Homo sapiens: one gene and its partner. The protein of the gene in region 1 interacts with the protein of each later gene in a biochemical or structural test. Each region holds a gene or a part of one and is shown in the gene's direction. Other genes may lie near its edges.

Region 1 (3,600 bases):
GCATGAAAACAGGATAAATTAAGTGTGTTCTGAGAGTGAACAGCAGAGGTTAGCCTCTCCGTAGTGCAGATAGACAAACTGAGCCTCAGAAAAGCAAAGCAACTTGCCCACAGCCCCACAGCTAGGTAGCAGCAAAGCTTCACTGACCTTTCCCTGTCTGGGACCTGCCAGGGAAGCCCTGGAAGTCCCCAACACAGAGAAGGCCAAGACCTATGTGGAGGGTGTCATGGGGAAGAGCTTGGGTTTGGGGGCCAGGATTCAAGTATACTCGGCTGAAGACCTTGACAGGGAATCCCAGGGGCTTCCCCAGGACTTTTCTCCATCTGGAATGGGGCATCCAGAACTGAAGTGCGCGCGCGCGCGCGTGTGTGTGTGTGTGTGTGTGTGTGTCTGTCTGACTGTCTGTCTGTGTAGGCAAGACCTGGTTTCCAATCCCAGTTTTGTCACTCCCCCTCTGAGACACTCTCTCTGGCTCTCTGAGCCTCTATTTCTTTTTTCTTTATTTGTTTTCTTTCTTTCTTTCTTTCTTTCTTTCTTTCTTTCTTTCTTTCTTTCTTTTCTTTTCTTTCTTTCTTTCCTTTCTTCTTTCTTTCTTTCTCTTTCTTTCTTTCTTTCCCTTCCTTCCTTCCTTCCTTCCTTTCTTTCTCTTTCTTTCTTTCTCTCTTTCTTTCTCTCTTTCTCTCTTTCTTTCTCTCTTTCTCTCTTTCTCTCTTTCTTTCTTTCTCTCTTAGATGGAGTTTTGCTCTTGTCACCCAGGCTGGAGTGCAATGGTGCGATCTCAGCTCACTGCAACCTCTGCCTCCTGGATTCAAGGGATTCTCCTACCTCAGCCTCCCAGGTAGCTGGGATTACAGGCACACACCACCACGCCTGGCTAATTTTTGTATTTTTAGTAGAGACGGGGTTTCACCATGTTAGCCAGGCTGGTCTCGTACTCCTGACATCAGGTGATCTGCCCGCCTTGGCCTCCCAAAGTGCTGGGATAACAGGCATGAGCCATAATCGTGCCTGGCCTCTGAGCCTCTATTTCTGCATCTGTAAAATGGAGACAATGGTGATCAGACCTGTTTCATAGGATTGTTGTAAAGGTTCAGGGAGATACTGTGTGGGGGCACCTAGTGAGCATGAGTGCTAGAACTTGAGAATGACCTTAAAGGAGGCTTTAAACCCAGAGGGTCCAAGGGGCAGCCCTCTGGCCACCCCTGCCTCAGACGCACGTCTAAAAATATTAAATTGGGATGGTATGGTGGTTCATGCCTGTAATCCCACCACTTTGGGAGGCTGAGGCGGGTGGATCACTTGAGGCCAAAAGTTCGACACCAGCCTGGCCAACAAGGCGAAAACCTGTACTAAAAATACAAAAAATTAGCTGGGCATGGTGGTGCACGCCTGTAGTCCCAGTTACTTGGGAGGCTGAGGCAGGAGAATTGCTTGAAACTGGGAGGCAGAGATCGCAGGTTGCAGTGAGCTGAGATCACGCCATTGCACTCCAGCCTGGGTGACGAGTGAAACTCCGTCTCAAAAAAATAATAATAATAAATAAAAATAAAAAGATTAAATTGGCCAAAAATCAGGAAATTCCAAATACAAATCCAGATTTCTGGCTTTATTGAAAATTATGCACTCATTAATTCAACTAATACATCTCTGCAAGCTCCTTCTATGAACCAGTTTTCTTGCTAGTGGCCCGGGCAGCAGTGGCAGGGCTGCCCTCCATAGCTCTCCACCTCACCACGTTCACACAGTCCCCTGGCATCCAAGTCCCTTCCTGGCCCTGTGACCATCTGTCCTCAACCCTTTCCTCACCCTTACCCCCAGCAACTGACGAACCACATCCGGGACACACTGCCGGGGCTGCGGAACAAGCTGCAGAGCCAGCTACTGTCCATTGAGAAGGAGGTGGAGGAATACAAGAACTTCCGCCCTGATGACCCAGCTCGCAAGACCAAGGCCCTGCTGCAGTGAGGCTCCCCCAGCTCCTATCACTGAATCCCCGCCCCCAGCCTCTCAGCGTGGGGCTCTCCCAGGGTTCCCTTTGCTGGGCTGCTCCTGCCCCCTCAGGCCACACCACTCTCCCACCAGGATGGTCCAGCAGTTCGCCGTAGACTTTGAGAAGCGCATTGAGGGCTCAGGAGATCAGATCGACACCTACGAACTGTCAGGGGGAGCCCGCATTAACCGAATCTTCCACGAGCGCTTCCCTTTCGAGCTGGTCAAGGTAGGTCAGGCAGCCCTGGGGACAGGATGGCTCAGGACTCCCCCCACCCTCACTCAGGACTCTCTCTGCGTGTGTTTTTGCTGGCCCCCACCCCACAGGCCCTGATGCCCAGCCCTAGGTGTGGGGTGGGCCCTGTCTTGACCTCCCAGGTAGTAGGACAGGCCCTGACCAGGCTTTTCTCTGCTTTTCTACACAGATGGAGTTTGATGAGAAGGAACTCCGAAGGGAGATCAGCTATGCTATCAAGAATATCCATGGCATTAGGCACGTATTGGGGCCTGGGAGGGTGGCTGAACCCCAGAAGTAGGGGGTCTGGGACAGAGGCACAGGGAGTGATGAAGTGGGCCTCCCTCAGGAAGGACTGAAAGCTCTGTTCCCCAGTCCTCTCGACCCCAACTTTCTGGCTCCCTGCATGACAGGCTCCAGCTTGGGGAGGTGGACCCGGGCCACCCCGCCTACTGCAACTTGCTGGGCCAACTGGGCACAGCCCAGGGCGCAGGTGGCCGGGGAAACACCCTCTGGGGCTGGGCCCATCCCCAGGGTGAGATAGCTCCCCCAGTGCCACCCAGGTAACCGGACAAAGATGTCCAAACCACTACGAGGGCCTGGGGTGGAGCATCTAAGTATGAGGCTGTGTCCTTTTATGACGGCCGGGGACTTTGCAATCCTCCACACCCTCCTGTATTCACAGTAGCCCAGAGTCAGTCCCATTCCACCCCACCGCCCTCCTTCTAGGCAACCCGTGGAGTAGGAAACAGGATTGGGAGGTGGAATCTGTTCCTTAAAAGCTTAGATCCCCTTCAGGGACCCAGATCTATGCTGTGTTCATCCAACAAATCCACTGGGCCGGAAAATTTAAAGCACCTACCCTATGCCAAGCAGTGAACAAGACCCAGTGTCCCCTTGCTCTCATGCAGGTTCATTTCCAAGATTTGGCATGGAATTTACTTCCTGATAACTGCACTGGCCAATTCACAGAAAAAAGATCTCTTTCCTAGTCTTAAAACAAAACACTCTATTCCTGGAAAGGCTCTTATGGAGAACCACGTTTGGCAATTTTCAAGCCATTTCTGGCCATAGAACTTCCTATATGCACAGACCCTTACGAGGAAGCAGGACTTACATATCAGATACTCAACCACCTTGTCTTGCCCCAAAGAGCCTCATTAGGGCCGGGCGCGGTGGCTCACGCCTGTAATCCCAGCACTTTGGAAGGCCGAGGCAGGCGGATCATGAGGTCAGGAGATCGAGACCATCCTGGCTAACACGGTGAAACCCTGTCTCTACTAAAAATACGAAAAAATTAGCCGGGCGTGGTGGCAGGCGCCTGTAGTCCCAGCTACTTGGGAGGCTGAGGCAGGAGAATGGCGTGAACCCGGGAG
Region 2 (3,600 bases), on another chromosome or scaffold:
AGGATTAAATAATACCTGCAAAGCACTCAGCGCAACATCATACTTTCAGAAATGTTGGCTATTTTGACTATTATTTCTGTAAATTGGGCACATCTCAATTACAGAGAATCTCTAAAGTAGTTCTGAATCCCATCTCATAGAGTTGCAAAGGGTTTGGTCAATGCAACCTTATTTTTCCCACCTTTTAATTTCTGCAGTAGGCTACTGTAGCAGCCACTAGCACAGGTGGCTATTGAGCACTCCAACTGTGTCTAGTCGGAATTGAGATGCGCTGTTAAGTGGAAAATACACATCAGATTTTGAAGATTTAATTTTGAAGAATTAATTTTTTAATTTAATTTTGAAGATTTAATACGAAGAAAAGAACGTAAAATCTCAATTTTTAAATATTTGTTTAAGCGTTGAAATGATAATGTCTCAGATATACTAGGCTAAATGAAACATATAATTAAAATTAATTTCACGTGTTTCTTTTCACTTTTTAAATGTAGCTACCCCAAAATTAAAATGACATAAGGGACTCGCATTATATTTGTACTGGACAGAGTTCAGGTAAAACCTTTCTACTCATAACGTGGACAGCAGCACCTGGGAGCTTCTTAGAAACGCAGATGTTCGGCCCCGACCCAGACCTATCCCAAGGCGATGCTTACATCTCGCTCCAGATGATTCCGCCGTTTAGCATAATGAAGAGGGCCGATCTGGCTCAAAAGCCACATACAGCGAATAACTACTAACTGCTTTCCGAAAACAGCAAAGTGATGAGGAAGAAAGAAGTGGCTGAGAAGAAGTAACAGAGAAAGAAAAAGACACTCAAATTCTAGGAACAAGAAGCAGAGGAGAAAAACCCAACCTGGGAGATTAAGTGGAAGGGCACTCCCAGACCTCTGCCTCCATAAAAGTAGAGGGAGATGCAAACTGAGATAAGACCTACAATCAAAACCCGTCAAGGTCCAGGAAACTGTCCCTCAAATCTAGTCTTACCCACCCCTCAGCGGCCTCAGCTAAGCTAGGCCTGGGCCCGAACAAGTCCCAGGTTAGGGTTCGACGCGAACCACCATCCTCCCCAGGGCTGCACGGTTCTGTGGGGCATCTCTCCACCTTTCGCTTAAAGGCCCGTTTCCCAAGACACAGGACGCGTTTCCCGGGGCTCACCTGCCTCTGAGCCGCCCCAACGGCCTGCACCTTCACCACCGCCACCTTCCAGTCCTTCGTCAGAGAGCCCGCCCCCTGCTCCCATTGGTCAGGCCGCTCGTCACTCCTGAAGGGCGGGGTCGGACTCGCGAGGCTGTCCAGAACGCCATGGCAACCGGTCTCGGAACTACATCTCCCGTCATGTTCCGCTCGGGGGCGGAGAAAGAGGCGAGGCCCCGCCCCAAGGACTACCAATAAATGGGCGAAGTTGGAATCGCCCGGATGGGTTCCGTTTTATGCAAATTTTAGCCGAAGACCACACCCTTCCTCATTCCAACCATAGGCCCGGCCAACCCCTTTGGGTTGTGCTTCGCCTTTTTCCTTTCCACATTATTCTCTCCTTGAAAACCTCCAATAATTAAGTCAATTAAGTGCATCCTATCTAGTGTCTCTCACGGCAACGAGCAGATGCACCGAAATCGTGCAACAAAATCTCCATAAACCACGATAGGCAACCTCAGACCATAAATCTCCTGTTACGCCTACATGGGGAGGAGGGGGAGAGTGCTAATCCTGCCCCCACACAGCCCCTGCTGATTGGCTCATTCGGCTTGTCACTCTGTTGTCTTACATTTCTTTGGCTCACCCTCTTTGGGTTCGCACGGTGGGCGGGGCCAGTGGTAGGGGGTGGTGAGAAGGTGCGGGCCCCTTCTTCCAATTGGCTGGCGGTTTCCCCACCCACTTATGGGCGGAGATGGATGGTGGATGGGGGGCGGGGGAGGCAGCGGAGGGAGATGAGGAGATAGGCGGGAGCGAGGGAGCGAGGGAGGGAGCGAAGGAGGTAGAGAAGAGTGGAGGCGCCAGGGGAGGGAGCGTAGCTTGGTTGCTCCGTAGTACGGCGGCTCGCGAGGAAGAATCCCGAGCGGGCTCCGGGACGGACAGAGAGGCGGGCGGGGATGGTGTGCGGGGCTGCGGCTCCTGCGTCCCTCCCAGCGGCGCGTGAGCGGCACTGATTTGTCCCTGGGGCGGCAGCGCGGACCCGCCCGGAGATGAGGTGAGGAGAGGGCTGCAAGGCGGCGGCCTGGACCACGGGCGGCTGCAGCGGGGGCGGGGGTCGGCGCGGGGGTCTGCGCGATGGCTGCCCGGGGCATCCGTCCCGCGCCCGGCGCTTGTCTCCCCGGCCGCCCTTAGCCCCTCGCCGCGCGCCCGAGAGACGGCAGCGGCTGCCCCTCTGCCTTGTCCTTCCCGTCCTCGGGGGTGGCGGCGGAGTGGCGGGCGGACCCGCACTGGGAGGCCGGGGGCCGCGGTGGGCCGTGGGGTGGCGGCCGCGGGACGGGCGTGGGGATGAATGGGCGCCGCGGCCCCGCCGCCGAGCGGGCTCCCTCCTCTCGCGGGGACCCCGGGCGGCCGCTCCTTCCCGGGCTGACCTCGCTGCCCTCGGCCGCCGGCGAGGGGCGGCCCGGCCTCGCCTCCCGCCGGCCTCCCGGGGACCCGCGTTGGCGGGAGCGGCGCCGCCTCTGCCTGGAGCCCCGGCTCCTTCCTCGGCCCCTCGCTCGCAAGCCTGCAGAATCCTGGGTCAGTGAAGGGCAGGCAATGCCGTTCGGCCCCAGGGCGCGCCGCGGGGCCGCCCCTGAAGGCATTTAAAGGGGAGCGTCTTCCGCGCCCTGTGAGCGCGTCCCCGGGTCCGCCGCGTCCCTTCCCTTCTTACGCACCGACACGGTTTTGTGGTGTGGACCCAAGACACAATTGCAGTCCCTTGCTTGCACGAATGCAATCCGAATTCCCAAAAAAAGGAAACCGGCGAGGAATCGGCCGCACCTTCCTGCGCTTCTGCTTGCCTTGGGATTAGAAAACAACTTCGGAGATTACATTTCCTATGGGCAATCTTTTGTTGTGATTCAGACTCAAGAAGGCTTTGCTTTGGAAGAAATAGATTAGCGGCTTCTCTGTGGAGTTGGAGGCTATAGAGATTTTTATAGCCTCTTCAATATGAAAGTTTCCTCTAGAACTTTGCCATCATCAGTGCTATTCTGAGGGCAGCAGCAACCTGGAAATTTAGATACATGCAGGCTCCGGCCAGATGCGTTTCTTTGTGCTTGTCTGTTGGCATTCTTCTCTTGCTGCTCCTCTTGATCAAAACGTACAGATAATAAAGGCAAGGCCAATGAAGAGGGTAGATAATAACAGCAAATCCCATACAAACAAATGCCTCTAGAAATTCTCAGTTCTGTCAGCGGGGAGGCAGTTTTGCTAATCCCGTGGAACGGATGAAAAGAAAGGCACAGAGATCTCATGGATTATGTAGTGGACAGGATGTGAGGGCAGGAACTGGGGCCAGGACCCAGCAGGCCAGCTGGTTTGCATGGTGCCACTCTAAACCCCCAAAATATGAATAGGAGGAATGTATTTGTTGGGATACCTTTATTTTTAGATGACTTTAAGGTTGAGAGTGCAGAAGCTTAAACA

What was found. The genes of interacting proteins can lie anywhere in the genome.
Region 2: the proteins of DNM1 (region 1) and ITSN1 form a complex in vitro, tested with the Homo sapiens proteins (2 studies listed by BioGRID and IntAct, with this or other methods).

Annotation. Positions count from the first base shown.
Region 1 is NC_000009.12:128,220,379-128,223,978, forward strand, and holds part of DNM1 (dynamin-1), read left to right. Parts: intron 1-1,818; coding exon 1,819-1,961; intron 1,962-2,082; coding exon 2,083-2,218; intron 2,219-2,414; coding exon 2,415-2,482; intron 2,483-3,600. UniProt on the Homo sapiens protein: Catalyzes the hydrolysis of GTP and utilizes this energy to mediate vesicle scission and participates in many forms of endocytosis, such as clathrin-mediated endocytosis or synaptic vesicle endocytosis as well as rapid endocytosis (RE).
Region 2 is NC_000021.9:33,640,526-33,644,125, forward strand, and holds the start of ITSN1 (intersectin-1), read left to right. Parts: upstream 1-1,975; 5' UTR 1,976-2,188; intron 2,189-3,600. UniProt on the Homo sapiens protein: Adapter protein that provides a link between the endocytic membrane traffic and the actin assembly machinery. Acts as a guanine nucleotide exchange factor (GEF) for CDC42, and thereby stimulates actin nucleation mediated by WASL and the ARP2/3 complex.